Homo sapiens: one gene and its partners. The protein of the gene in region 1 purifies or fractionates together with the protein of each later gene. This does not show direct contact. Each region holds a gene or a part of one and is shown on either strand. Other genes may lie near its edges. The genes, in order: ACOX3, TIPRL, EIF4B, CAPZA1 and TSNAX.

The links.
Region 2: the proteins of ACOX3 (region 1) and TIPRL fractionate together in Homo sapiens (co-fractionation; one large-scale study listed by BioGRID). This does not show direct contact.
Region 3: the proteins of ACOX3 (region 1) and EIF4B fractionate together in Homo sapiens (co-fractionation; one large-scale study listed by BioGRID). This does not show direct contact.
Region 4: the proteins of ACOX3 (region 1) and CAPZA1 fractionate together in Homo sapiens (co-fractionation; one large-scale study listed by BioGRID). This does not show direct contact.
Region 5: the proteins of ACOX3 (region 1) and TSNAX fractionate together in Homo sapiens (co-fractionation; one large-scale study listed by BioGRID). This does not show direct contact.

What each region holds. Positions count from the first base shown.
Region 1 is NC_000004.12:8,388,724-8,392,619, reverse strand, and holds part of ACOX3 (peroxisomal acyl-coenzyme A oxidase 3), read left to right. Parts: intron 1-166; coding exon 167-287; intron 288-2,885; coding exon 2,886-3,008; intron 3,009-3,333; coding exon 3,334-3,447; intron 3,448-3,896. UniProt on the Homo sapiens protein: Oxidizes the CoA-esters of 2-methyl-branched fatty acids.
Region 2 is NC_000001.11:168,185,851-168,192,482, reverse strand, and holds part of TIPRL (TIP41-like protein), read right to left. Parts: intron 1,115-6,632; coding exon 983-1,114; intron 276-982; coding exon of another isoform or gene 255-275; exon of another isoform or gene 88-254; intron 1-87. UniProt on the Homo sapiens protein: May be a allosteric regulator of serine/threonine-protein phosphatase 2A (PP2A). Isoform 1 inhibits catalytic activity of the PP2A(D) core complex in vitro. The PP2A(C):TIPRL complex does not show phosphatase activity.
Region 3 is NC_000012.12:53,008,070-53,014,701, forward strand, and holds part of EIF4B (eukaryotic translation initiation factor 4B), read left to right. Parts: intron 1-6,632. UniProt on the Homo sapiens protein: Required for the binding of mRNA to ribosomes. Functions in close association with EIF4-F and EIF4-A. Binds near the 5'-terminal cap of mRNA in presence of EIF-4F and ATP.
Region 4 is NC_000001.11:112,626,332-112,629,831, reverse strand, and holds part of CAPZA1 (F-actin-capping protein subunit alpha-1), read right to left. Parts: intron 1-3,500. UniProt on the Homo sapiens protein: F-actin-capping proteins bind in a Ca(2+)-independent manner to the fast growing ends of actin filaments (barbed end) thereby blocking the exchange of subunits at these ends.
Region 5 is NC_000001.11:231,557,230-231,563,861, forward strand, and holds part of TSNAX (translin-associated protein X), read left to right. Parts: intron 1-3,898; coding exon 3,899-4,026; intron 4,027-6,632.

The DNA of each region.
Region 1 (3,896 bases):
ACCCTTTTTTATTTCTAATTACAATTAGGTTTCCTCTTCTGTCATTTTCGGGATGTCTTGTATTAGACTAGAGGTGATATGGTGGTTTGATGCTATTGCTGACTTATGACTTTTTGGTGTCTAAAGTCTCTTTTCACCTGTTCTTGTTGGATTCCCTCACCCAAAGGCAGAGCTTGGACGTGAGATCCACGCCCTGGCATCGGCCAGCAAGCCCCTGGCCTCGTGGACCACCCAGCAAGGAATTCAGGAATGCCGGGAGGCGTGTGGAGGACACGGCTATCTGGCCAGTAGGTTTTGGAGAAGCGCATGGTGGTTTCCTGTCCTTAGCCCTGCTGTTTGACTCTAGACCAGGGGTCGGCAGACTGCGGCCTGAGGACCAAATCCAGCCTGCCACCTGTTTTTGCAAATAAAGTTTTATTGGAACACAGCCAGCCACCCCCGTTCATTTGCACATTTCCTGCAGCTGTTTTCGCACTGCAAGGGCAGAGATGAGTAATCGCAGCTGTGACAGAGACCATGTGGCTTACAGAGCTGAAAATATTTACTCTCTGGTCCATTGCAGAACAAGTTTGCCAACCCCTGCCCTAGATAGATCCCACTGCTTTCAGATGCCTGATGCTTCTTGGCCAAAATATAGGCAGAGAGCAGCTGATCTGCTCATTTGAATTTTAACTATTTGGTTAACAGCTTGGTAGTAAACTAGCACCATGTTTTGTTTGAATAGAAAATTCTTACACTTAGATAAAGAGTTAGTTATATCGGCATTGATGATGACTGAGGCAGCTGTTATATGGTTAAGAGCGGAGGCCACCAGCTTGCCTGGGATTGAGTCCTGGCTCCATCTAACAGCCTGGTAACTGTGGGCAGGTTGCTTAACCTCACTGTGCTCAGTTTTCTTATTTTTAAAGTGGGGGTGATAATAGTGTACCCACAACATAGGTTCTTGCCAGAATTAAGTGAATTACCACGTATGAAGTGTAAGCATGGTATCTGGCATGTAGTGCGTGCCCAATGACTTTTTTATTTGCTAATGCTGTTATTATTAGAATTATCATCAGCATTATTTACAGCTTACCTGCAAAACTTCCCGTGTGCTAATCTTAAATAATTAACTGGCAAAAACTGGTTGCTCAAAGAAGGCCATGTACACACTCAAAACAGCCACAGCATCAGCAAAACTCTCTTGCCCTCCAGGAGCACTTGGTCCTTGCCAAGTTTGTGAGAGTTTTTGTGATGCTCTATCTAGAACTACACACACACTTTCAGCGATCATCCGCCCACCACTGCAGTTCTAACTCGCACCTGTTCCAGCATGGGCTGTTAGCAACGTGGCCCCTCACTCCCACCACAATCTGTCTTTGTCACTTACTGACATGCGGGTAGCCATGGCTGTACACAAGTTACTCATTTGCATGCTTTGTCCTCTGCGCAATGCCCTTAGTAGTTTTTGTCTTTGTAACTCATCGGGATTCTATAAATAGTTGAATAAGGAAATTGAATCTTGCAGTACTGCAGACAACAAAGATGATGGAATCAAGATTAATCATATACATATACATATACATATACATATACATATACATATACACATACATATACATATACACATACATATACATATGCTGGGATTGAGACCAATATGACCGAGGCTCCATCTAGGTTTAGAAAATCAATTGCAAATGTTTCTGCTGAGGCCTCTCCCAGCTCTTGTTCAGTGGCCAACCTGTTACGTGGCAGGAAGCTCGTGGCATGATTTGACAGTAAGTCAGGAGAAAATCAGGTGTTCTAGGTGATCACAAGGCTAATCACAAGCGTGTTGGCAGTATGGCTGCAATAGGACTCCTTTCATGCTCTCAGGATCCATCAGTCACAGTACGTGAGTGTGAGAAGTCAGCTCCACTCCCTTCCTGCTAGGCCCATCCCAGCCTCACATTCAGAGAACACTTTCCATCACAGTAGGCAGGCTCAAGTGTGTGAGGGTCTGGAAAGCAAGCCTGACAACATATGTGAAGGCATCCAGCTAACTGATAGGAAAGACAAAAAACAGTTATCTTGAAATTTCCTGTGTTAAAAGAAGAGTTCATTCAGTTATGGACGGAAGAAGGGTAGCCCTGGGGGCATCAGCTCGCTGAGATGGCTCCCTCCTATCAGCAACCCCATGCCAGGGGAGGCTCTGCAGGGCTTGCTGACAGCAGTGAGGAGCTGGAGGTGGGATATGAAGCACAGGTGGCAGTTCTTTGTGTCTGGTCAAGCTGAGTTCAGGGCTTTTTTTTTTTTGGTCAGAGTCTTGCCCTGTCCCGGAGGCTGGAGTACAGTGGCATGACCATGGCTTACTTTTGCCTCAAATGCCTGGGCTCTTAAGCAATCCTCCCACCTCAGCCTCCTGGGTAGCTGGGACTAAAGGTGCGTGCCACTATGCCCAGCTAATTTTTTTTTTCATTTTTTATAGAGATAGGGTCTCACTATGTTGCCCAGGCTGGTCTCAAACTCATGGCTTTTTTTGTTGTTGTTGTTGTTGAGACAGGGTCTTGCTCTGTCACCCGGGCTGGAGTGCAGTTGCGCAATCTCGGCTCACTGCAACCTCCGCCTCCCAGGCTCAAGCGATTCTCCTGCCTCAGCCTCCCGAGTAGCTGAGATTACAGGCACACACCACCACACCTGGCTATTTTTGTATTTTTAGTAGAGGTGGGTTTCACCATGTTGGTCAGGCTGGTCTTGAACACCTGGCTTCAAGTGATCCACCCGCCTCGGCCCCCCAAAGTGCTGCCATTACAGGTGTGAGCCACCGCACCCAGCCTCTTAAGGCTTTTTAAATTCTCACATAGTGACAGGCTGCTTCTCAAATATGCGTCTTAAATGATGGTACTATTGTGGCTTTGTTGCAGTGAACCGGTTGGGTGTCCTTAGAGATGACAACGATCCCAACTGCACATACGAAGGTGACAACAACATCCTGCTGCAGCAGACAAGCAACTATTTGCTGGGTCTCCTGGCACACCAGGTCCACGGTGAGGCTCTGCTGCACACTGGTGGGGGCGCTGGAACCCAACTGGGGCAGGGGTGGGTTCTCCTGGCCTCACTGATTCAGCTGTTCTGTGAATGCATCCTAGGTTTGCAGAAGGAAAGAAATGTTATTAGATAGTGCCGACCAACTCCCCAAGGCATGGGCAAAGGCTGGGGTGGGGAGGGTCCTTGAGACCCAGACCCTCGCCTGTGGGTCTGTGGCCGTCGGGTCCTCTGGACACTCTCTGTGCTTTGGGGTGCCCCCAGCTTGGGGTTCCCAATGGTTTGGGTTCCTGTCTTCCACCAAAGTCACTGGAATGTGTGTCCTAGATGGAGCTTGCTTCCGCAGTCCGCTGAAGTCAGTGGACTTTCTGGACGCCTATCCCGGCATCCTTGACCAGAAGTTTGAGGTCTCCAGTGTTGCCGACTGCTTGGACTCTGCAGGTAAACACACAGGTGGAGGGCTCCCCTGGCCTCCTGATTTCCTGTCATTCCCACCAGGAAACGCACCGTGCCTCGGTGAGGGGACCCTTGGCAGTTCCAGCCGGGGCAGCAGTGGTGGTGGGAGGCCCCGCATGCAGCTTGTCCTGGGCTGGCTCATGGACTATCTCTTTGTGCCTGACGCCGAGTTAGGCGCTGACTCCACAGATGAATTGAAGGATGCCCACTTGCCACCTTATACCTTGCCTCTTGCCTTTCCCTCCCATAGGATAAAGGGCGTGAGAGGCCACCTGGCCTGGTCTCTGTCCACTAAGCAGCCTCTGCCCCCTGCCCTGGTGCCTGGGCTGCTGCTGTCCCTGGGCCCTCCCAGCCACCTCACCTGTCAGTCTTCCCCACTCCCAGGCCCTGCTGGCTCCCCAAACAGCAGATGCCCCTTCCCGCCCTGGCGCACC
Region 2 (6,632 bases), on another chromosome or scaffold:
AAGTTTCAGTTGAGTTATTTCTGGAAAGTATTAGAGACCCAATTATAATGCAGTGGTAAAGAAATATGAATAACCATACTTGTTATGTGTGTTTTCTACTTCTTTTATTTTATTTTATTTTTTTTTTTTGAGACGGAGTCTTGCTCTGTCGCCCAGGCTGGAGGGCTGGAGTGCAGTGGTGCGATCTCAGCTCACTGCAAGCTCCGCCTCCCGGGTTCACGCTTCTCCTGCCTCAGCCTCCCGAGTAGCTGGGACTACAGGTGCCCGCCACCAGGCTGAAAATTGAAGTGGTAGTTGAATGATGCACTGAAATCATAACACATGGATCATTTTAAAAAATGACATCCACCTTGCCGTCTGCAGATCCTATCAACATCATTTTTAATCCAAAATGTGAAAATTAAGCCACAGTCTTCATTAGAGTTAAATAATAAACAAATAAACTACAAGGTGGCCAGGCAGGTCTATTAAAAATGCTTTGCTAAAATAAAGCCTTAAGAATACACAAATATTTTGTGAATTTTATAATGGATATTCAATAAGATACACTCTAGATTCAAGTGAAATTGTACATGACATCATGTTAAAGCTCAGTGTTATTCTTTTTTTTTTTTTTTTTTTTTTGCTCTGTCGCCCAGGCTGGAGTGCAGTGGCGTGATCCTGGCTCACTGCAAGCTCCGCCTCTTGGGTTCACGCTACTCTCCTGCCTCAGCCTCCCGAGTAGCTGGGACTACAGGCGCCCGCCACCATGCCCAGCTAACTTTTTGTGTTTTTAGTAGAGACGGGGTTTCACTGTGTTAGCCAGGATGGTCTCGGTCTCCTGACCTGGCGATCCAGCCCGCCTCAGCCTCTCAAAGTGCTGGGATTACAGGCGTGAGCCACCGCGCCCGGCCAGGCTCAGTGTTATTCAAAGTGAGTCATATTTTTGTCTGATGTTAAGAATGCAAGAAAAATATTAATTTTAAATAAAAATAATACTCACAATCTTCACACTCAGGCTTGAAACTCCATGATCATGAAGTTCATCCTCAAAAAGGAGAACTTCTTCAAAAAACTTAATCTGTTCTCTGGCTTTCAATTTTTCTGTATCTATATGATCTGTTGTAGGTACAACCTGAAAGAAAAAATTTTAAAGAGGAGCACATTAAAAAAAAAGTTGAGGAGCTACAGAGACACAGGAAAGCAGTCTTTTCTTTTCTTTTTCAATCAGTCTTTTCTACATAGCCAGAGCACACAGTTCTAAATTTGGGTGTCATTAGTAGATATAAAAGATCAGAATATGGCTTGATTCTGAAAACTGAAGACATTACAGATGCCCAATATTATAGCTTCACAAAAAAAGCAGTAAAAATTTATCATTTTTCATGCAAGTCATATTAAAATCAACTTCTGTTGTGACTATGAGAAAATTAATCAACTAAACATCAGTCAGTGTGATGAACGACTGCTATCATAGAAGGTCATAGAACATTTGTGCTGTGAAAGCCACTTTTAGGACATTCATATGGAACTTAAAAAATATTTTTCCATTAGAATGTTAGATATTTGCTCAACCTAACTCCCCAAAACCTACAACAAAATAAAGTGCTTTAAATAATGAGGTAAACAAGAACTTGTAGAGAAATTCTGAGGGAAACTCTTAGCATTGCAAAGAGCTTTGAATGAAGTTGGCAATTTTTCAAGGTATTATTTTGTAGCTCTAAGACATGCACACACGTAATCCAACAAAAGCATCAACAGTCCCAAGGCAGATCATATCAGGAGCTCATTAAACTCAAGTGTCTCCTGAGCAGCACCCAAGTATGAATTGTGATACTATTTTCTACCACACCTAATTTCACTACAAAATGCTCAGCTGTTTTACTCCTTGACAGGTTTACCATAAACAAACACAACAATGCTTGTCAAACCATAGATATTTAGTAAATGTAGCTTTACTTAAGCGTCATGATTAGGTGATTTGTTTTGACTCATGGACAAAATTAGCAGATGGAGAGTAATTTGAGATAACTAGATAAGAATCAGAAGAAAATTACAAAGGATGTTGTTTACAAGACTGCACAGATTTTGGGAGGAAATCTAAGGGAACGTTAAGTAATGTAGGGGGAAAAGATGCCATGAAAAGAAAGTGGCAGTTTGTATATGATTTCCAGGAGGTAAAAAAATGTCCATAATTCTTCCATGGTCACTTAGAGATAACACTTAGCCCTAAGCAGTTTTACTTCCAACTGTGTACGGAGCAGGTATAAGGCCACTCTTGAGGTGAAAACTGGGAGGGGAAGGGAGTTGGAGTGTAGGGGCAGGGCATATAACCAGTCCCCTGCATCACACATTAAGTTTATGATCTAGTTAAACAAAAGTTGGTCTGCCAACGAGGACTGCCTAAGGTTACACAACTGAAATTAGTGTTAAATACACACACTTGTAAATTTCGTCCTTTTTATTTGATTTTAGTTCAGAGGAACACATTTTTAACATCCTCCTTATAGATACTCCTGAATCCCCCAAAATTAATCATTATCTGAATTTTCTCATTAGTAAATTGCTTCATTAATGTTTCACATATGCCTTCAGTAAGTGATTGGTCAAAATGAATCTGTCAGTTTTTCCATTTACGTACTTGTTCTTATAAAATGAAAGACAAAGTCAAAAAACAAAGCATGAGTTAGAGATATCATATTTAACTTATTTATGCTATTGTCTCCATTTGCAAGGCTAAATATGTCTAAAACTTTATACTTTTCAGCTCTCTTCCTCAACTCCACATATCTCTCTCTGAACCCAGGGATCTAAAAAATACAACAAAAAAAAAATAACCAGCTAAATATAAAACATATGGGCTGGGCGCGGTGGCTTATGCCTATAATCCCAGCACTTTGGGAGGCAAGGCGGCCGGATCACTTGAGGTCAGGAGTTTGAGACCAGCCTAGCCAATATGGTGAAACCCCATCTCTACTAAAAATACAAAAACTAGCTGATCGTGGTGGCAGGCACCTGTAATCCCAGCTACTCAGGAGGCTGAGGCAGGAGAATCGCTTGAACCCGCGGGGCAGAGGTTGCAGTGAGCTGAGATCACACCATTGCACTCCAGCCTGGGCGACAAGAATGAAACTCTATCTCAAAAAAATAAAAAACATATGGAACAGTATTGGCAGAATAAGTAATCTAGACAAACCTTCTTGATGAAGACAATTTAAAAAGCTGGCTAAAAAAACCCAAAAACTTCCTAAAAGCATCAAATGGCCAAGGCAGTATGGAGTTACTGGGCTGAGATCTGGAAAGACTGGAGCCGAGAAAAGTAAGTCTGTACTTGGCTGGCTTTTGCCCTGAGGCATAGCACTGGCTGATCCAGAGAAGAAGCTGGGCTCTGCTAGCTTTTGGTGCCATCACTGCTCAGTGCTCACTAAGGACAAGGACCCTGGAGAATTTCCTGCTTCCTCCCAAATCAGAGATGACACCCTAAAGAGCTATAGTGATTTCAGAACTTTTTTTTTTTTTTCTTGAGACAGAGTCTCGCTCTGTTGCCCAGGCTGGAATGCAGTGGCACCATTTCAGTTCACTGCAACCTCCAGCTCCTGGGTTCAACCAATTCTTGTGCCTCAGCCTCCCAAGTAGCGAGGATTACACACACATGCCACAACGCTTGGCTAATTTTTTTGTGTTTTTAGTAGATACAGGGTTTTGCCATGTTGGCCAGGCTGGTCTCGAACTCCTGACCTCAGGTGTTCCGCCTGCCTCGGCCTCCTAAAGTATTGGGATTCAGGTATGAGCCACTGTGCCCAGCCTCAGAGCTTCTTATCTGCAGGCCCAGTACACCTCAAACTCTGGTCCTAGACCAAGGCAGGCAAACTAAGACATGCAGCTCACATCTGCCCTGTTACCTATTTTTATGGGCTGCAAGCTAATAATGGCTAAATAATTGGAGAAAAAAAATCAAAAGAAAAATATTTCATGACACATAAAAATTACATGAAATTCAAATTTCACTGTCCATAAAGTTTTATTAAAGCATAGCCATGCCCATTCATTTATATATTGTCTATGAGTGATTTAGACTATGATAGCACAGCTGAGTTGCTGCAACAGAGACTCTAAGGCCCACAAAGCCTAAAATATTTACGTCTGACTCTTTACAGAAGAAGTTTGCAGAGCTCTGTCCTTGACTATGAATATTCTCGAGCGCCTGTCAGAACTAAACAAAAATCCTCTCTGAAGGAAAACACCATCATCCTAGAACTGAAATGAAAATAAAGAGGCAAATTAGAAGCCTAGATGTCATAACCCAGAACCAACTGAAATAAAAGACACTAGGGATTCCAGAGGTGATTGAAATTATTAGGCCTTAGTCCATTTGGGCTGCTATTTAATATAATAATATACCATAGATAATATATCTACTTTTATTCTAGGTATTACAATATTAACTTAGGTTCCCTAATACTTGATATACTATATTATCATAGTAACAGCTGCCATTTATTGAGATCTTACTGCAAAACACACACTGTTTTGAGATAGGGTGTCGCTCTGTCACCCAGGCTGGAGTACAGTGGCACAATCACAGCTCACTGCAGCCTCGCCTTCCTGGGCTCAACTGATTCTCCCACCTCAGCCTCCTGAGTAGCTGGGACTATAGACACGTGCCACCAGACCCGCCAATTTTTCTATTTTTTGTAGAGATGGGGTTTCACCATGTTGCCCAGACTGGTCTTGAACTCCTGAGCTCAAGTGATCCATCTCAGCCTCCCAAAGTGCTGGGACTACAGGCATGAGCCACTACACCCAGCCTACATACATAATTTTATTTCCTACTTCACAACTAGTATTACCCTAGTTTAACAAAGTGACTGAAACAAGGCTAAGTAAGACTAAATTACTTTTCCAAGCTGGCAAATGATGGTGCTGGGATTTTGAACCCAGATCTGTGTTTTGCCAAAGCCTGAGCTCATTACCACCAGTGAGTGGGTAATCACATTGACATTTATCAGCAACACCTCAGAACAAATCACATTATAGGCTGAAGTATCAATAGGAGAGTACTGAACAAATGCTTTTTGCCTTCTACTACTCTCACACTCCTTGTTTGTACAGCTGTGGTTCTCACTTGGTCACACCTAATGCTGCTTCATAACCTCCAGGAGGCTTTTCCTAAGTCAGTCCACAAAGTAAGTCATCATCATTATTGTATGGGTTTAAAACAAGTTCCCATTTCCTCACTCCTGGCAATGAAATATTAAATGGTCTCTACAAAGTTTTTCAATCAGAAGAGAGGAGGGAGGAGAACACTAATCTATGAAGTAGTATAAGGGACTAAAATAACCTTGCTCTCCCATTAGACTGTAAAGGAGGAATTTTTGTCTGCTCTGCTGTATCCAAGGCTCCTAGCATTAGTGCCTGGCATAGAGCAAGAGCTCAAGAAATATCTGTTGAATGAATGAATGAGTTTTTTCCTGGAAGCACAGAAAAATAGTTAAAGCTTGGACTGTAATAATAGCAGAAACTGAAGATAACAATCATTAAGTTCCTGCTATGAACTTTTATCTTCATGAGACTCTAAAAATTTCTGCAGAGAAAAGGGGCCCAGACACAACACTATCTTCTTAACATTTCTGCCTAAGCACCAACATATGATATCAGGTTTCCTTGTTTTGAGATGGAGTCTCACTCTGAAGCCCAGGTTGGAGCACTGTGGCGTGATCTTGGCTCACTGCAACTCTGCCTCCTGGGTTCAAGCAATTCTCCTGCCTCAGCCTCCCCAGTCTCCAGCTCCTAACCTCAGGTGATCTGCCTGCCTCGGCCTCCCAAAGTGCTGGGATTACAGGTGTGAACCACTGTGCCCGGATGACATAGGGTTTCCAATAGCTACTTTTAATATAAATATTTCAGGTTACGCTGAAATAAATTCATTCTATATAATAGTCTGTGATATTTAGAGACATTCAACCTAAACCAAATTTGCTTTATTTTATTTTACTTATTGTTTTTCTGAAACAGAGCCTTTCTCTGTTGCCCAGGCTAGAGTGCAGTGGCGTGATCTCGGATCACTGCAACCTCTACCTCCTGGGTTCAAGTGATTCTCCTGCCTCAACCTCCCAAGTAGCTGGGATTACAGACACACGCCACCAGGCCTGGCTAATTTTTACATTTTTAGTAGAGGTGCGGTCTCACTATGTTGGCCAAGCTGGTCTCGAACTCCTGACCTCAAGTAATCTGCCCTCCTTGGCCTCGCAAAGTGCTGGGATTACAGGCGTGAGCCATTGAGCCCAGCCCAGATTTGCTTCCTTTCAGTCATACTATAAGATTTCAAAATGCAGCTAACTTCACAATATAAGACCTACCAATTCCATCTTCCTAGCGTTATTTACCATGAATCTCTCTCTTTTTTTTTTTTTTTTTTTTTTTTTTTTTGAGACGGAGTCTCGCTCTGTCGCCCAGGCTGGAGTGCAGTAGTGTGATCTCAGCTCACTGCAACCTCTGCCTCCCGGGTTCAAGCAATTCTCCTGCCTCAGCCTCCCGAGTAGCTGGGACTACAGGCATGCTCCACCATGCCTGGCTAAATTTTGTATTTTTAGTAGAGATGGGGTTTCACCATGTTGACCAGGCTGGTGTTGAACTCCTGACTTCATGATCCA
Region 3 (6,632 bases), on another chromosome or scaffold:
GTAAAAGTCCTAAATATATTTTAAACTAACCATTGCTTAAAGTACTTACTTGGTCTGGATTTGCCACCTTAACAGTTTAGTATCGTAATTTAGTGAAGAAAATCTGTGTTTTCTTAACTTTTGTGTAATTTTTAGAGGCGGAACATAGGACAGCAATTCATGTCCTTCGTTTTACCGAGTTGAGGGAAATCCAGACTGATAAAAGGGATTTACTCTGACGTCCCATTCTCTTGTTCTTCCATATTTACTCTACCCCCTTGAAAACCCTCATCTCCTTTAATTCACTTCAGTAAATCTTTTTAGCTGGTACTGGTATCTGAGCACAAGTCACATCTTTCAGTCTGTTCTTGAGGAATCTGGGGTTTATCGGATTGTTTCCCCGCTCCTCTTTCCAGTCACACTGGCTTTGTGAAGTAACCAGTATTCCCTGATGTGGGAAATGGATGTTATGTGTTCTGTGTGAAAATACATAAAACAACTTCATACGCCTCTTTTACTGTTAAATGAGACCAAAAAATTCTTTGCAGCAATACCAGTTTCCAGTGTGATCCATTATTGACCTTCAAGAACTAAGGTAGGTCTCAGAACTAACTATAGAATGAGGATAGTTTGAATTCCTAGAAACTTGATACATTGAGCCAGTACACTTAATTCCTTGCTTTGCTTCTTAAAAAGAATTCTTAAAGGCCGGGCGCGGTGGCTCACGCCTGTAATCCCAGCACTTCGGGAGGTCGAGGCGGGCGGATCACTAGGTCAGGAGTTGGAGACCAACCTGACCAACATGGTGAAACTCTGTCTCTACTAAAAATACAAAAATTAGCTGGGCGTGGTGTCGCGTGCTTGTAATCCCAGCTACTCCGGAGGCTGAGGCAGGAGAATCGCTTCAATCTGGGAGGGGGAGATTGCAGTGAACCGAGATTGTGCCATTGCACTCCAGCCTGGGCAAAAGAGCAAGACTCCATTTCAAAAAAAAATCTTAAAAATACGAAGTTTTTCATTTTTCTTAAATTTTCATTGTGACTACTTTAGTAGACTTGCCAGTAATAAGCCAGTTACCGCTTGAATCTCAGTTTCTTTATCTGGAAAGTGGTCATTATTTATCTGCTGTCCCCTTACCTAGAGGGAATCAAATGCGTTTGATACAGGTTAACATTTAAAATGCTTTCAAATTGGGCAGGGTGCAGTGGCTCATGCCTGTAATCCCAGCACTTTGGGAAGCTGAGGTGGGTGAAACACCTGAGAACAGGAGTTCGAGACCAGCCTGGCCAACATGGTGAAACCCAGTCTCCACTAAAAATACAAAAATTAGCGGGGTTTTGGGCTGGGCGTGGTGGCTCACGCCTGTAATCCAGGAGGCAGAGGTTGCAGTGAATTGAGATTGCACCACTGCCCTCCGGCCTGGGCGACAGAGCGAGACTCCGTCTCAAAAAAAAAAAACAAAAACAAACTTTAAAATTGGAAATAACATATGTAAGCTCATGCACAGGCCTTTCATTTCCATAATGCTTCAAAATGCAGTCCTGTGTGACATCTTATTTGATTATTTTTATAGGGAGAAGATGCTCTGCAGTGGTTGTTTTCATACACTGCTGACTCTCACAGTGAAATGGTTTTAAGGGGTGCCATTATATATTGCTTACAGATTCCCTAGTGTCAAGTTCCATCCTCTATCATGTATATGTTATTCTGTGAGTAAGATACCCAGAAGGCCAAAATTAAAACTCTTTATGAAAGTTTAAATACAAATACAGAATAGTGTCAATTAAGATAAAGCAGTGTTTCTAAGTAATGTCATTGAAAAAAGAGGTATATTTCATCTCAAAACATTCTGGAATTCTCTTTTCGTGATGGTAGAGGAAATAACTGAACTTGAGTACAGTATTTTAAGTAATTATTTGTAATTAGGTTTGCCTTATGTACATTTATGAGCCAGTTTCTTAAATTTGTAGTAGATACTGCTATGGTCCTGATAGTGGGAAAGTACCAAATCAAGAAGTTTAACTTGAATTTGTGTACCTCCTGTCTCCCATTTTGTGTAATGGTTAGCATGGCATGCATTGGGCACTTATTTTGTTTGATTATGTATATGATCAAATTGAGTATCCCTGGAGGGATAAGGAAAAGGTAGTATGGCATCTTCTGTCAAAATGAAGTAATTGGGCACAGAGAGGTCATGTAACTGAACCCGTACGGGGGTCAAGATGGTGGAGCTTATGAGTTTTGACTCAGTCTTTACTATGCTAAACTTACCCAATCCCCAACTAAATCAAAAGGTGGCTTGCACTGGGATCTTTTTGACTTTACAATGGGTTTATCCGGATAGTAAATGCATTTTTTTACTTGAGAAGGGTTTATCCTGACAGTCTCATCATAAGTCAGGGAGCATCTATATAGTGCAGTAAAGGTGAAGGTGAAATATTGTATTACATTGCATGAAATGTCTTTTCATGGCTGGGCTGTAAACACCAATATAATTAGTCTAATTCTAGGCACTCTGGGTGGATCGATTGTGTTTATGCAATGTTGTTGGTTTAGGGAAACATTTGTTATTCATTATTTAAAGTAGCTTTTGTTTTGTTTGTTTTTGTTTTTGTTTTGAGACAGAGTCTCACTATGGCTCAGGCTGGAGTGCAGTGGCGTGGTCTCAGCTCACTGCAATCTCCACCTCCTGGGTTCAAGCGGTTCTAGAGATGGAGTTTCACCATGTTGGCCAGGCTGGTCTCGAGCTCCCGACCTCAGGTGATCTTCCCACCTTGGCCTCCCGGAGTACTGGGATTACAGGCATGAGCCACCACACCTGGCCTAAAGTAGCTTTTAATTATGGAGAATGTGGCAGAACTCACTTTTAGTAACAGCTTTATTCAATGTAATTTGTATACCATAAAATTTACACTTTTAAAGTATACAGTTTGGACCGTGTGCAGTGGCTCACTCCTGTAATCCCAGCACTTTGGGATGCCAAGGCAAGAGGATCACTTAAGCCCAGGAATTCAAGACCAGCCTAAGTAACATAGTGAGACCACGTCTCTACAAAAAAAATTTTAAAAATTAGCCAGGGGTGGTGGCATGTACCTGTGGTCCCAGCTACTTGGGAGGCTGCAGTGGGAGGATTGCTTAAGCCCTGGAGGTCAAGGCTGCAGTGAGCCATTATCTCACTACTGTACTCCAGCCTGGGTGACAGAGCAAGACCCTGTATGATTTGGTGGGGTTTAGTATATTCAGAGATGTTCAACCATCATTATTATCTAATTTCAGAACCTTTTTATCACCCCCAAAGAAAAGTCCTTTATATAGGACTAACAATTCCTTTTCATTTATCTTTTTATTTATTGAAGTGAAACATCACTTAGAACATGGTTCTCAGCTAAGGGACAGTCTTTTCATCCCAAACCCTCATCCCACCCCAGAGCATTTGGCAGTGTCCAGAGACGCTTTTGGTTGTCAGAGTGGAATGGGGATCGGGGATTACTATTGGCATCTAATGAGCAGAATCAGAGATAACTGCTAAAATCCCCCCATGACAAATTACCTAAGCTAAAATATCAGCAGTGCTGAGATAGAGAAACTCTGAGTTAAGAAGTAGGCTGTATTTATTTTAGTATCTATTATAACAAATCCTGTTTATTAAGAAAACCATGAATGTGTTGTCTCTTGTTTAACGGCTTCTGGACTTAGCAATATTTCCGTTTTTAAGATCTTTTATTAAACCTGTATGGGTATATAAAGAGCTGGAGGTGTGTTTTCCCCACTGTAGACCATGTATAAATAATTGGGACAGGTTTTGTTTTGTGAGGTGATTGATTTGTTAACTTTTTAACCAGTTCACATAAGATTTAGAGAAAATTAAAGAATTGGACCAGTTCATTGTTGAATTGCAAAGGATTGATAAACCTGGAGCATTAAACAGTGCTTTACTTATAAAGCAGAGGGAACACTGTTGAAATCTAAACATGTAATGGGCCTAGGTATTGAGGGAGCAAAGGGCATGGAGGATTTAGATAACATCTTTTCTCAGTTAACTGGAATGAAACGGAGTGGAACAAACACGGGCACCTACTTTAGGTTTATTGATTTTGCTTTCCAAGGGCTAATTCCTTTAAACCTGCTGCTTATATTTTGACTGAGTCAGTGCTGCTGCTACAGTTAAATAAGTTGAAGATCTTGTAAGGAATTTTAGCCTGTTTTTTTAAGACTCATCTAACAGGTGGGGCGCAGTAGCTCAGGCCTGTAATCCCAGCACTTTGGGATACAGAGGCGGGCAGATCACCTGGGGTTGGGAGTTGGAGACCAGCCTGACCAACATGGAGAAACCCCATCTCTATTAAAAATACAAAATTAGCCAGGTGTGGTGGTGCATGCCGGTAATCCTCGCTACTTGGGAGGCTGAGGCAGGAGAATCGCTTGAACCCGGGAGGCGGAGGTTTCGGTGAGCCGAGATTCCACCATTGCACTCCAGCCTAGGCAACAAGAGCAAAATTTCTGTCTCAAAAAAAAAGACTTATCCAACAGTAATTTCTTTTTTTTTTCCTTTTTTTTTTTTTCTTTTTTTTGTGGGGGACGGAGTCTCGCTTTGTAGCCCAGGCTGGAGTGCAGTGGCACGATCTCAGCTCACTGCAAGCTCCGCCTCCCGGGTTCACGCCATTCTCCTGCCTCAGCCTCCCGAGTAGCTAGGACCACAGGTGCCCGCCACCATGCCCGGCTAATTTTTTTGTATTTTTAGTAGAGACGGGGTTTCACCATGTTAGCCAGGATGGTCTCGATCTCCTGACCTCGTGATCCACCCGCCTCGGCCTCCCAAAGTGCTGGGATTACAGGCGTGAGCCACCACACCCAACAGTAATTTCTTAACCAGAGGGCCTGGGAGTGGGTGGCAATCAGAGGAGGGGGAGACTTGTGATTTGAAAAGACATTCTAAGATTTAAAAGTGCTTTTAATATTTTTTAGTCATGATATTTAATTTGTTTGGAAATTTCAAATAACGTTAAAGAAGAAACTTGTTTGTCAAAGGAGTCAAGGGGTGAGAGTTGAGAAACTGTGATCTACAAAGTTGATTTAAGCCAAATCGGACTAAAGGGCAGATTAATTCCACATTCTGCTGTTTTGGTAGAAGATACGTATATAGAACAAAGAGGAAAGGGATACCTTATTCAGATTGTTAATGTTCTTTTGTTGAACTTGACCTTATTGTACTGACCACCAGTTCTGTTTTTATCCTCCCAGTGGAAGGACAGGTTAATAATTGGATATTAGCTGATGGTACTAGATTAAGCCCCATGAGGGTAAGGATCTGTAGCTAGCATCATATTAATCCCAGACACTATTTTTGAATTAAATGATATGAAAAAGTCTAAAATAAGCCCACGCACTGTAAGTGGTTTACCTCATGTCTTACTCGTGTTCGCTTATTAAAATCTCCCATAGATCTTTGCATATGAGGCTGGGCACAGTGGCTCATGCCTGTAATCGCAGCATTTTGGGAGGCCGAGGTGGGTGGATCATTTGGGGTCAGGAGTTTGAGACCAGCCTGGCCAACATGGTGAAACCCCATCTCTACTAAAAATACAAAAATTAGCCAGGCTTGGTGGCACATGCCTGTAATCCCAGTTACTCAGGAGGCTGAGGCAGGAGAATCACTTGAACCTGGGAGGCAGAGGTTATAGTGAGCCAAGATGGCGCCACTGCACTCCAGCCTGGACAAGAGTGAGACTCCCTCTAAAAAAAAAAAAAAACCTTTGCATATGAGCTGCAGCAATAAAAGTGCTATGAGACCCAACCTCTCTGTAACCGTATTCTTTGAAAGCTGTGGAATAAGGCCAAGTGCAGTGGCTCACATCTAATCCCAGCACTTTGGAAGGCTGAGACGGGTGGACCACTTGAGGCCAGGAGTTGAAGACCAATCTGGGCAGTGTAGCAAGACCCCTGCCTCTACAAAAAATTTTAAAATTAGCTGGGCATGGTGGTGCATGCCTATAGTCCCAGCTACTCAAGAGGCTACAGTGGGAGAATTGCTTGAGCCCAAAAGGTCAAAGCTGCAGTGAGCCACGATTGCACCACTGCAAAAAAAGAAAAAAGAAAAAGCAGGCCGGGCGCGTTGGCTCACGTCTGTAATCCCAGCACTTTGGGAGGCTAATCACGAGGTCAGGAGATCAAGACCATCCTGGCTAACACTGTGAAACTAAAAAAAAAAAAAAAATTAGCCTGGCGTGGTGGCACGCGCCTGTAGTCCCAGCCACTTGGGAGGCTGAGGCAGGAGAAATTGCTTGAACCTGGGAGGCGGAGGTTGCAGTGAACTGAGATCGCGCCACTGCACTCCAGCCTGTATGACAAAGCGAGACTCCGTCTCAAAAAAAAAAAAAAAAGCGTAGGATGGATTCAAAATGTGATCTGGTTGATCATAAACAATACTTTTGGAGCTGGATTAATATTAAGTCACTTGAGAGATACAGAAAATACCATGTTCGTGGTCAACTTTGATTATTTTAGCCGGGTTCATCTGGTTTGCACATTGAGACCGTAATACTTCAGGTTCTAATTGTGTCCAGAAGGCTATGTGTTAACATTCATAGCAAACTGGTTACCTTTATTTCCTGAAAGTTAAATTTTGAAAGAAAGGGATACCAAGTGAGAAAGCA
Region 4 (3,500 bases), on another chromosome or scaffold:
AAAGGTAGTGGGAAAACACTCTCTTGTTTGGTAGAACAGAGGATTTGGAGAGAATAAAAGAGAAGGATGAACTAAGGTAAGTCAGATAGCAGTAATGATGGTAATACCAAATCTGGTTTCATTCCGTATGTCATTGGCAATGGCCACTTGCTAAAGCTTTCTGAGGACAAAGCTCCATTAATAAAAATCTATCAGTAATACAGAAGTACTGGAGTCCTCAATATGGCCTCACAAAACTTGGAAATCAGACTGCCCTATGAGAGTTAACAATGAAATCAAGACAGATGCTATCCAAGCAAGATTCATGCATTCAACAAATATCAGAAGACCCACTATGTTTTAGGCAATGGTGACTCACTAGCATACTGTCCTCATGGAGTTTACATTCTAGTGGGTAAAGACAACAGAGAAGATTAAGTAAAATACTACCTGGCAAGTGATAAATGCTAAGGAGAAAAAACAAGGCAAAGAAAAGGGACAAGAAATGTTAGGATTTGCAACTGGACAGAATAACCAGAGAAAGCTTCACTAAGGAGATGACTTCTGGTTAAGTATCTGAAATGAGGGATACAGAAGGAAAAGAACTCCAGAGAAAAGAACAAATGCAAAGATTATTCAGCGAGAATACGTGATTGGAACAAAGACCAGAAGAAGAACATGTAGGAGATAAAGTCAGAGATAAATGGCAAAGAGGTAACATCCCAGAACATAGGGACTTAGAAAAAGATGGGAAGCCACCGGAGGGCTTTGAGCAGAAAAGTGACATGTACTGACCTACATTTTAACCAGATCACTCTGGATGCTTCATCGAGGACAGACTGCTGGGCAGGAGCAACAGCAGAAGCAGGGAAACCATAAAAAATAGTATTTTAATAATCTAGAGGTCACAATGGCTTCTTCCAGAGTGGTTAGAATAAGGGTGTGGTAAGAAATAGTCAAATTCTGGGTTTATTTTAAAGACAGAGCCTACAGGATTTACCAGTGGACAACAAGTGGATTGTGAAAGAAATAGTAGTCAAAGATAACACTAATGTTTTTGACCTGAGCAACTAAAGAATGGAAGTGTCATTAACCAAGGGCGGGCAGACTGTAGGAGAAGCTGCAGTATGCAAAATTTTGACACATAACCAGTCCTGCAAAACTCCCCTGCTAGTAATGTGATAACAAATGAACCTATCTAGAGGAAAAATGTCCAATGCTGTTATACAAAGACGTGACTTGGTTTTGGTGTTGGGTACATATGCCTATTATGAAACAAAATGCCATCAATACTTTGGACTATCTAGTTAACTTCCTTTGTTCTAATTCTATGCTCCATTAAAACATTCTAACTTGATTTCCCATGTTCCTGACCTATCTGAAAAAAAGAACTTAGTTCCTTCTATATGTATTAAATTGTTATTCCAGTTTTATACATTAGTTTCATAAGCCTAGCTAAAATGAGTTTATCCCCGAGAGAGACCTGGTTTAGTATCCTGATCAATCAAGCTTCTGAGCTAAATAAGCAGAGGACTAAGATTTGAACCACAGCAAGTTCACTAAGATAATGGTTCTCAAGTATTCCAATAATTATTGGGAGGCTTATTACAAATAATTCCTGACAACTGGTTCCAAAAAATTCTGATTCAATATACCTAGGATGGAACTCAGAAATCTGTTTTTGAAGGAAACACAGATTCTGCCATAGGCAAGGATGTTCTAAGATACTGTCATACTGTAAAGTTTCTCCTTGGCCTTGTTACGGGGACTTTAGTGATCTTTAAATTTCTAGAGCCATGTTTTTCAACACCTGTTTAATAACACAGCATAAATACTAGAACTCTTCACGGCATACTTAAGCTCAAAGAGCACTAAGCAACTTTTTTTTTTTTGAGACAGAGTTTCACTCTTGTTGCCCAGGCTGGAGTGCAATGGCGCAATCTTGGCTCACTGCAACCTCCGTCTCCTGGGTTTAAGCTATTCTCCTGCCTCAGCCTGCTGAGTAGCTGGGATTACAGGCATGCGCCATCACGCCCAGCTAATTTTGTATTTTTAGTAGAGACGGGGTTTCTCCATGTTGGTCAGGCTGGTCTCAAACTCCTAGCCTCAGGTGATCCGCCTGCCTCAGCCTCCCAAAGTCCCAAAGTGCTGGGATTACAGGCGTGAACCACTACGCCTGGCCCTTCTTTTTTTTTTTTTTTTTTTTTTTTTTTTTTGAGACAGAGTCTCGCACTGTCGGCCAGGCCAGGCTGGAGTGCAATGGCATGATCTCGGCTCACTGCAACCTCCTACTCTCAGGTTCAAGTGATTCTCCCAAGTAGCTGGGACTACAGGCGTGTGCCACTATGCTGGGCTAATTTTTGTATTTTCTCTAGAGATGGGGTTTCACTATGTTGCTCAGGCTGGTCTTGAACTCCTGGGTTCAAGTAATCCGCCTGCCTCAGCCTCCCAAAGTGCTGGGATTACAAGTGTGAACCACCGCACCTGGCCATTCAGCAACAATTATAATGCAATCAGGACCACAGAACACCAATGTTTCAGTGTCTATAAAGGCATCCAGGTTACTACATGATTAACTTGGTTGCTGTTTAGGACTATGTCATTATTTCATCAAAACTGCTTACTATCTTACTATCTACTTAAAGGAATCAAAATGGGTAAGAGCATAGGCTCTGACAGCAGACAACAGCATTGTATCCACTCTGCCATTTATTAGTTCTGGACACTTGGGTCATATATTTTAACCTCAAATGTGCCTGTGCCTCAGTTTACTCTACTGTAAAATGGGCATAAGTATCTGTCCTATAAGGATGTTGTGAGATAAATACATGGTTAATACATAGTTAGCACAAAAGAAGCACTTAAATGTTACCCAGATGTAAAACAAAGAATCCACAAAGCAAAGTTCTCTTACCACCTTCCTTTGCTACAGTCTGCCATTATGCTGTTTTCTTGTTTAAACAGTATGTTATACCATGACTACACTCAACAGAATTCGATCAATGTTCCATTTCACTGACACTGCCTTAACAATCTGTATGTGCAGTTGTACCAAAGATAAATTTTACACACTGCTCAAAATTTTGTAATACGTTATAGCTGTGAAGAATTTATGATAAACCAGGAAGGATGTATAAAGAAAGGAGAGGCCTGAGGCAGAGAGATAATTAAAAATGTTGTTAAAAATAATTCAAGCATAAAAAAAGGTCCTGAGTGAAAATAATGGTAGATGGAATGTGGACAGGTTAGAGATATTATTAAGTGAAAAGTGTGTCTGTATATGCATAGAATTAGAAAAGATACAAGAGGAATTGGTAATATTGGCTACTTGTCAGGGAAACTGGGTGGGTGGAAGACAGGGGCAGGAGGCGACTTTTTACTTGTGCCCTGTCCCACCATTTTAATTTTTTTTTTTTTTTTGGTAGAGACCGGGATCTCACTATGTTGCCCAGGCTAGTCTCAAACTTCTGAGCTCAAGTGATCGTCCCGGCTTAGCCTCCCAAAGTATTGGGATTACACGT
Region 5 (6,632 bases), on another chromosome or scaffold:
TGAAACCAAGTATAGATGAACTGGAGGGAACCTAGGACTGATAGAGGCAGAGACTTAAGAAGACATGACTAGAGAGGTGGAAAAGTGGGAAATCAGGAGATGATGCTGTCAAAGGAATCAAAGGAAAACTTGTTCAAAGAGGGGAAGTGGCACAAAATGCTGAATGCTGCCGAGATGAAGACGGAAAGAATGTCCATTAGTCTTATTTATTATGGTAATCTTAGCAAGAACTATTTTGTTTTAGAGATGTACCCAAGCTAGATTGAAGTAGGTTGAGAAGTGTGAGATGAAGTTATTGAGGAAATGATGTAGCCAGCTACTTCAAGAAACTTAGCTCTGAGGAGGAGGAGACAGATGGAGCAATAGTTGAGAGGAAATATAGGGTTCATGGATAGGACAGATCTGAGTGTGTTTCAGTATTTCTGTAAGATTCAGTATAGAACATAAAGTGAGAACACCTAGTATGTTAAAGGGAGAATTCATGTGAAGCTCCCAGCTGGTACTGAATCTTGATCCTGAACCTAATACAGTGACTAGCCACAGAAAATGGAACACCTTCTCTAGGTAGTAGGGCTGAAGGAGAAGTAATACCATTATTTATTTTCCTAATTCCTTATTGTATTCATCAGGCTCCAAACAGGAAACAGAAATTAGATGGTAATATGAACAGGGAAAGTTAAATACAACATACAGACTTATTAACCATATAGGGGATTATAAGAGTAAAAGAGAACTCTAAAGAGTACTGGAATCTCAGATAGAGTGAGCAGCCACTACCCCTAGGGCGGAGGCAGAGCACCCAAGGAACTAAATTTGGCAGAACCCAACCCTCACCCTTCACAGGATGAGGTCCAGACCATGCTGGAGAGGGTGGGCATGTCCCATCGGCTGGCAGAGACATTTGCTGAGCTGTTGTGCTGATGGACTCTCTGGGAAGCTGTCCATGGGGAAATGCCATGGAAAGGAATTCCCTGCCCAAGGAGGTGGCTTACTGGGAAGCCATTCTCTGGAGTACAAAAGAAGCTGTCCCCAGGCAGGTGCTACATGCTGTTGGCCACCTTGAAGTGCTGGCTGCCCCATACTCAGGGCTGTGAAGAGGGGCACAGCAGAACCAGGCAGAGAGCTCTTTACAGTTCTTTAAGCACCTAGCACCCTGTACTGACAAAGCTTAATATATTGCCAGCTGGCATAGGAGACATGCTTTAAGTATCCACCTCCTTCTTCTGAAATAATGGAACTAAGAGACAAAAATTGACAAGTGATACAGCTATTACTGGTCTTTTAACTTTAAAAAATTTTTTTTGCTGTAGTGACAAACATCCTTATATGTAAATCTTTGTGCATATCTTCTTGTTTAGCTCATAAGAGGCTAACCACATTAGAGCATGGAGATGTGATTATGCATCTTTACGTTTTGCTGTTTGCTTTTGTGTGCATGAAGTATCTTTAGAAGGAAATGAGAAATAGAGATTTTCTTTGGGGGGGAACTGGGCGGTGTCACCTATTCATAAAACTAAAAATTCATAAAATTAAACATTTAATTAAAAATATTTTTAATTATAAATATAAATGACATCATCTGTTTTGTTAAACTTAACCTCGTTAATGTTTAATTTCTCAGAACATTATGGTTTGTTAAATTGTCCCTTCTGACCTATATTTGGGCATCATTTGCAGCTCAGAATGAGTCAGGATATTTTCATTTAGTTAAGTTTCCTCTTAGTGCTATCAAAACCAGGGTCACCCATTTTCCCTTGTATCCTGGACCTTTGCCTGGCATTTGATGTGATGATACTACAGCTGTTAGCCTCCCCAACACTGTTGCTGCCATACCAGAAGTGTAGTGGCAGGTGGGGGAGACTTGTGAGTAGCAGGACTCTGTCATAAAAAATGTTAGAGAACTTAAATATCCTCTTAAGTTCTGAGTTTTCTTTGCATAATCAGAAATGTATTCTCTTGCTATTTTTACAACAAACCTTTAAAAAGTTTCTTAAACTAACAATAATAATTAAGAAATGCTTTTTCCCTGTATCACCTTTCAGATTAAGACATCAAATAATATTGAAAATTGTGGCTATAGAATATAGTTTGTTGTTGTTGTTGTTGTTGTTGTTTTTGAGATGGAATCTTGCTCTGTTGCCCAGGCTGGAGTGCAGTGGCACAATCTCGGCTCATTACAAGCCCCACCTCCCGGGTTCACGCCATTCTCCTGCCTCAGCCTCCAAAGTAGCTGGGACTACAGGCACCCGCCACCATGCCCAGCTAATTTTTTGTGTTTTTAGTAGAGACGGGGTTTCACCATGTTAGCCAGGATGGTCTCGATCTCCTGACCTCGTGACCCGCTGGCCTTGGCCTCCCAAAGTGCTGGGATTACAGGTGTGAGCCACCGGCGCCCGGCCAGAAAGTAGTTGTTTTAAAACACTTGGAAAAGTATAGTACTGTAGACATGTAACAAAATTGCACTTGTGCCCTTTACATTTATATAAACATTTTTAAAAGTATTTAAGTTACATTTTGATCTTTACCAAAATTTACTCTTCAATTCAAGGGTTGTTTCTGTCTTGTACAAAATTGTATTGCATAGCTCTCTTTTTTTTTTCTTAAACTACCAAAGCAGAAAGGAGTTATCTAGTCTTAGATCCATTTTGAACTATGAAAAGATAAACGGTATTTTGACACTTACCTACATTAGTTAAAAGTGATTTTGCCTATTAAAACTTTAAGAAAGATCCAAATTATTATTATTATTATTATTATTTTTTTTTTTTTGCGACGAGTCTCGCTCTGCCGCCTAGGCCGCAGTGCAGTGGCATGATCTTGGCTCACTGCAAGCTCTGCTTCCCGGGTTCACGCCATTCTCCTGCCTCAGCCTCCTGTGTAGCTGGGACTACAGGCGCCCGCCACCACGCCCGGCTAAGTTTTTTTATTTTTAGTAGAAATGTGGTTTCACCATGTTAGCCAGGATGGTCTGGATCTCCTGACCTCGTGATCCACCCGCCTGGGCCTCCCAAAGTGCTGGGATTACAGGCGTGAGCCATCGTGAACGGCCCAAATGATTCTTAATTTTATGTCTCATTTGTTTGAATCATTGCTTCGTTACCCAGCAAAATAAAACAAATTAATTTATATAATTTTTATTAAAGCCTATCAAAATTATGGAATAGGCTTTTCTTTTCTCCCCCCCCCCCCTTTTTTTTTTTTTGAGACGAAGTCTCGCTCTTGTCCCCCAGGCTGGAGTGCAATGGTGCGGTCTTGGCTCACTGCAACCTTCGGCTCCTGGGTTCAAGCGATTCTCCTGCCTCAGCCTCCCGAGTAGCTGGGATTACGGGCTCCTGCCACCACACCCGGCTAATATTTTTTGTATTTTTAGTAGAGATGGGGTTTCGCCATGTTGGCCAGGATGGTCTCAAACTCCTGACCTCAGGTGATCCGCCCACCTCAGCCTCCCAAAGTGCTGGGATTACAGGCGTGAGCCACCGTGCCCGGCCAGAATAAGCTTTTCTTAAATCCTAATTACTTAAACTCTTAAAAAAATTTTTTTTCTGGCTGGGCACAGTGGCCCAGAGATTACAGGCGCCCGCCACCATGTCCAGCTAATTTTTGTATTTTTAGTAGAGTTGGGGTTTTACTGTGTTGGCCAGGCTGGTCTCCATCTCCTGACCTGAAGTGATCCACCCGCCTTGGCCTTTTAAAGTGCTGGGATTACAGGCGTGAGCCACCGCGCCTGGTCCCCAGGCCATTCTTTCTATTCTAAGTGTCTAGTCTAGTACTGGCATTGTAGTAGGCATCCATTAAGCTTTTTTTTGAACTAGATGATGATCAATATGAAGTTTTTTTATTATGACATTCTTACTAATTAAGTGCTTATTCTTAGTAATTTTCTTTGTCACGCTTTCAGGACTACAGGAATATGTGGAAGCTGTCTCTTTTCAACACTTCATCAAAACACGATCATTAATTAGTATGGATGAAATTAATAAACAATTGATATTTACGACTGAAGACAATGGGAAAGAAAATAAAACTGTGAGAATTTAAAATTTATTTCACATTTGTTATATAATTTATGTAACAGTATGACGATTCTAGTAGATTTACTGGCTTATGCTAAGATTGAGATGGGAATGTTCTTTCTAAAGTATGGTTTTGTAGAGTCTCAACTAGGAAATGGTCTTTTTAAATATTTCAGTTAGTGGATAGAACAAGAACAACTCTGGGCATATTGGGAAAGTAATGCTCTTTACCTAAAGCATTATGGAGTGCTTACTGTAAGTCCTCTTTTGGTTTTACTCTCTATTTTTCACTTGCCCTTTGTAAGCACTGTCTTATTTAATCCTTTTATTAACCATATGTGGTAAGCATTATTACTCTCATTTTACAGAGAAAGAAACAGACTTTTAGAGAGGTTAAGTAACTTGCCAGAAGCCACAACTAAAAAGTGTGGCAGAGCTAAGATTTGAAGTTAGGTATTTTGAATCCAAGCCTGTGCCCTTGTCCACTCTGCCAGCGCTTCTCACAGTGTGCTACAGGGATCCCTTGCATCAGGTACCTACCTCAAAGGGTTGTTTTAAAGGATTTGACTTAAAGGTTATTAATTAGGCAATATACAGCAGCACCTGACACGTAATATACATTATATACAGCACCTGACACGGAAGTGCTCAGTAGTTTGCCATTATAAAGTAGTTTTTATATAGTGAGAGCTGTTAATCATTTACTCAATTCATAATGCTTATATCTGAAATTTATGTAGCTTTTCTGAATTAAGAAAAACTTTGCAGTTTGACTTTTAAACAAATACTATTTTTTTCCTTCTGGGTTTCAAGATATAACAGGCAGTAAGGTAAGCTGTATTGACTATTTGATACTTTCTGAGATACCAGTACACTTAAAATTAAATATTTTAAAATAATTTATATTATTTAAATAATTGTTTAAATATTAAATTATTAAATTATTAATTTAATTTACTAAATATTAAATATTTAATTATTTTAAAAATTTTCTTTATTTTTTCTTTTAAAAATTATTTTTAAAAACACCATATATTAAGGATAGGTAGGCAGGAGATGGAAGACACTGTAGAAATAATATTTTCTTGAATATCAACTAAAATATTAATACAAATGAGACTAATTTGGCATGACAGGTATAACTTACTTTAAGGAAGCCATGTATTAACTTTAAGTTATATGAAGTGTATTAAGGAGGAAATTTATTTTGAGAAGTAAAATTTCTTCATATTTTTTATTCATATAGTGTAGACTGAATTACACAAAGAAGTAAAGTAGGTCTATTTGACCCTGCTTCTCACGTGATATTAGGGAAGTTACCACACTTTCCTTTAAAGTTCTCTGTGTATCAAAATGAAAATATTGGGGAAAAGGCCAGAAAATTGAGAGTCAAAGTACTGTTTTCAGGACTTAGGTACCAGATTATTTTAAGATTATGGGGCTATAATATTCATATACATGTTTCAAATTGTATAAGACTATGTTCATAAATAAGTTTTAGTGCTAAAGATGCTTGGTGCTGAAATTTCTGGGAATTTGATTGGGAAAGGTATTTTGCTCTGACTTGCCTGTTGAGAATATTGTCAAAACTATTTAATTTTTATTTTAAAAAGTTTTGTGAAAAATTTCAAACATGCAGAAAAATAGAATGGAAACATTAGTGCCACTAACTAGCTATCATATTCCCATAGCTCAACGTCATATTACCTGTGATGTTTCTCGGACCTCATTTCTCATGCTAAATGATGAGGACGTTGCACCAAATGGTCTCTGCAGAGTCCAAACAGTGCTAGGATTCAAGTATTAGATACATAGCAAAGAGTGATCTTAATAAAGCTGTCTCCCTTGTCTCAGCTTATATTTATGTAACTTCCTTTAAACTTTACTCAAAAGAATTATCTCATTAGTTCCTCAAATGCACAATTCTTACCTGTATGCCTTTGTAGTTCCCACTACCTAAAATGTCCTTTGATGTAACTGCAACTTCACCTACCCTTTTATACATACCGTCTTTTAATAACAATTTAGGCATCGTCTCTACCAGAAAGAATTCAGTAGAGGGAAATTGATGTGGAGAGAGATTTCATGATGATATCATGATAGCAGCTAGCATTTGTTGAATATTTACTTTGTGTTGGGCATTATGCCAAGAACTTGGTAAATGTTCTCATTTAACCCTTAAAATAAACCTCTGAGGTAGGTACTGTTATCCCATTTTACAGATGAGGAAACTGAGGTTTAGAGAGATGAAATAACTTGCCCAAGGGCATACACCTTATGAAGCAAGGTCCTGGAAGAGGTGGGAGGAGATGGGTCAAGGTCATTTGGAAGAGTTAACCTCAAACAAGAGGAGGGACAACTCATCATCTGAGACTGGAGGATAGAAGGTAAAGATGGGTGTGGATATAAATTTTTTTTTTTTTTTTTTTTGGTAGGGATAAAGGCAGTTGTGAGAAATTGTGCTAGGTAAGCTGGCAAATGACCAGGTCACTGAAATTGGGCAAGGTTGTCTACTGAAAGTGAAGAGGTTTGGGATTTGAGTAGAGCCCTGAGGAGAGTGGTGAAAGGTTTGAAATTGTGTTTGAAGAGGCTGGAAAGAGAACCATCTAATGATAAGTA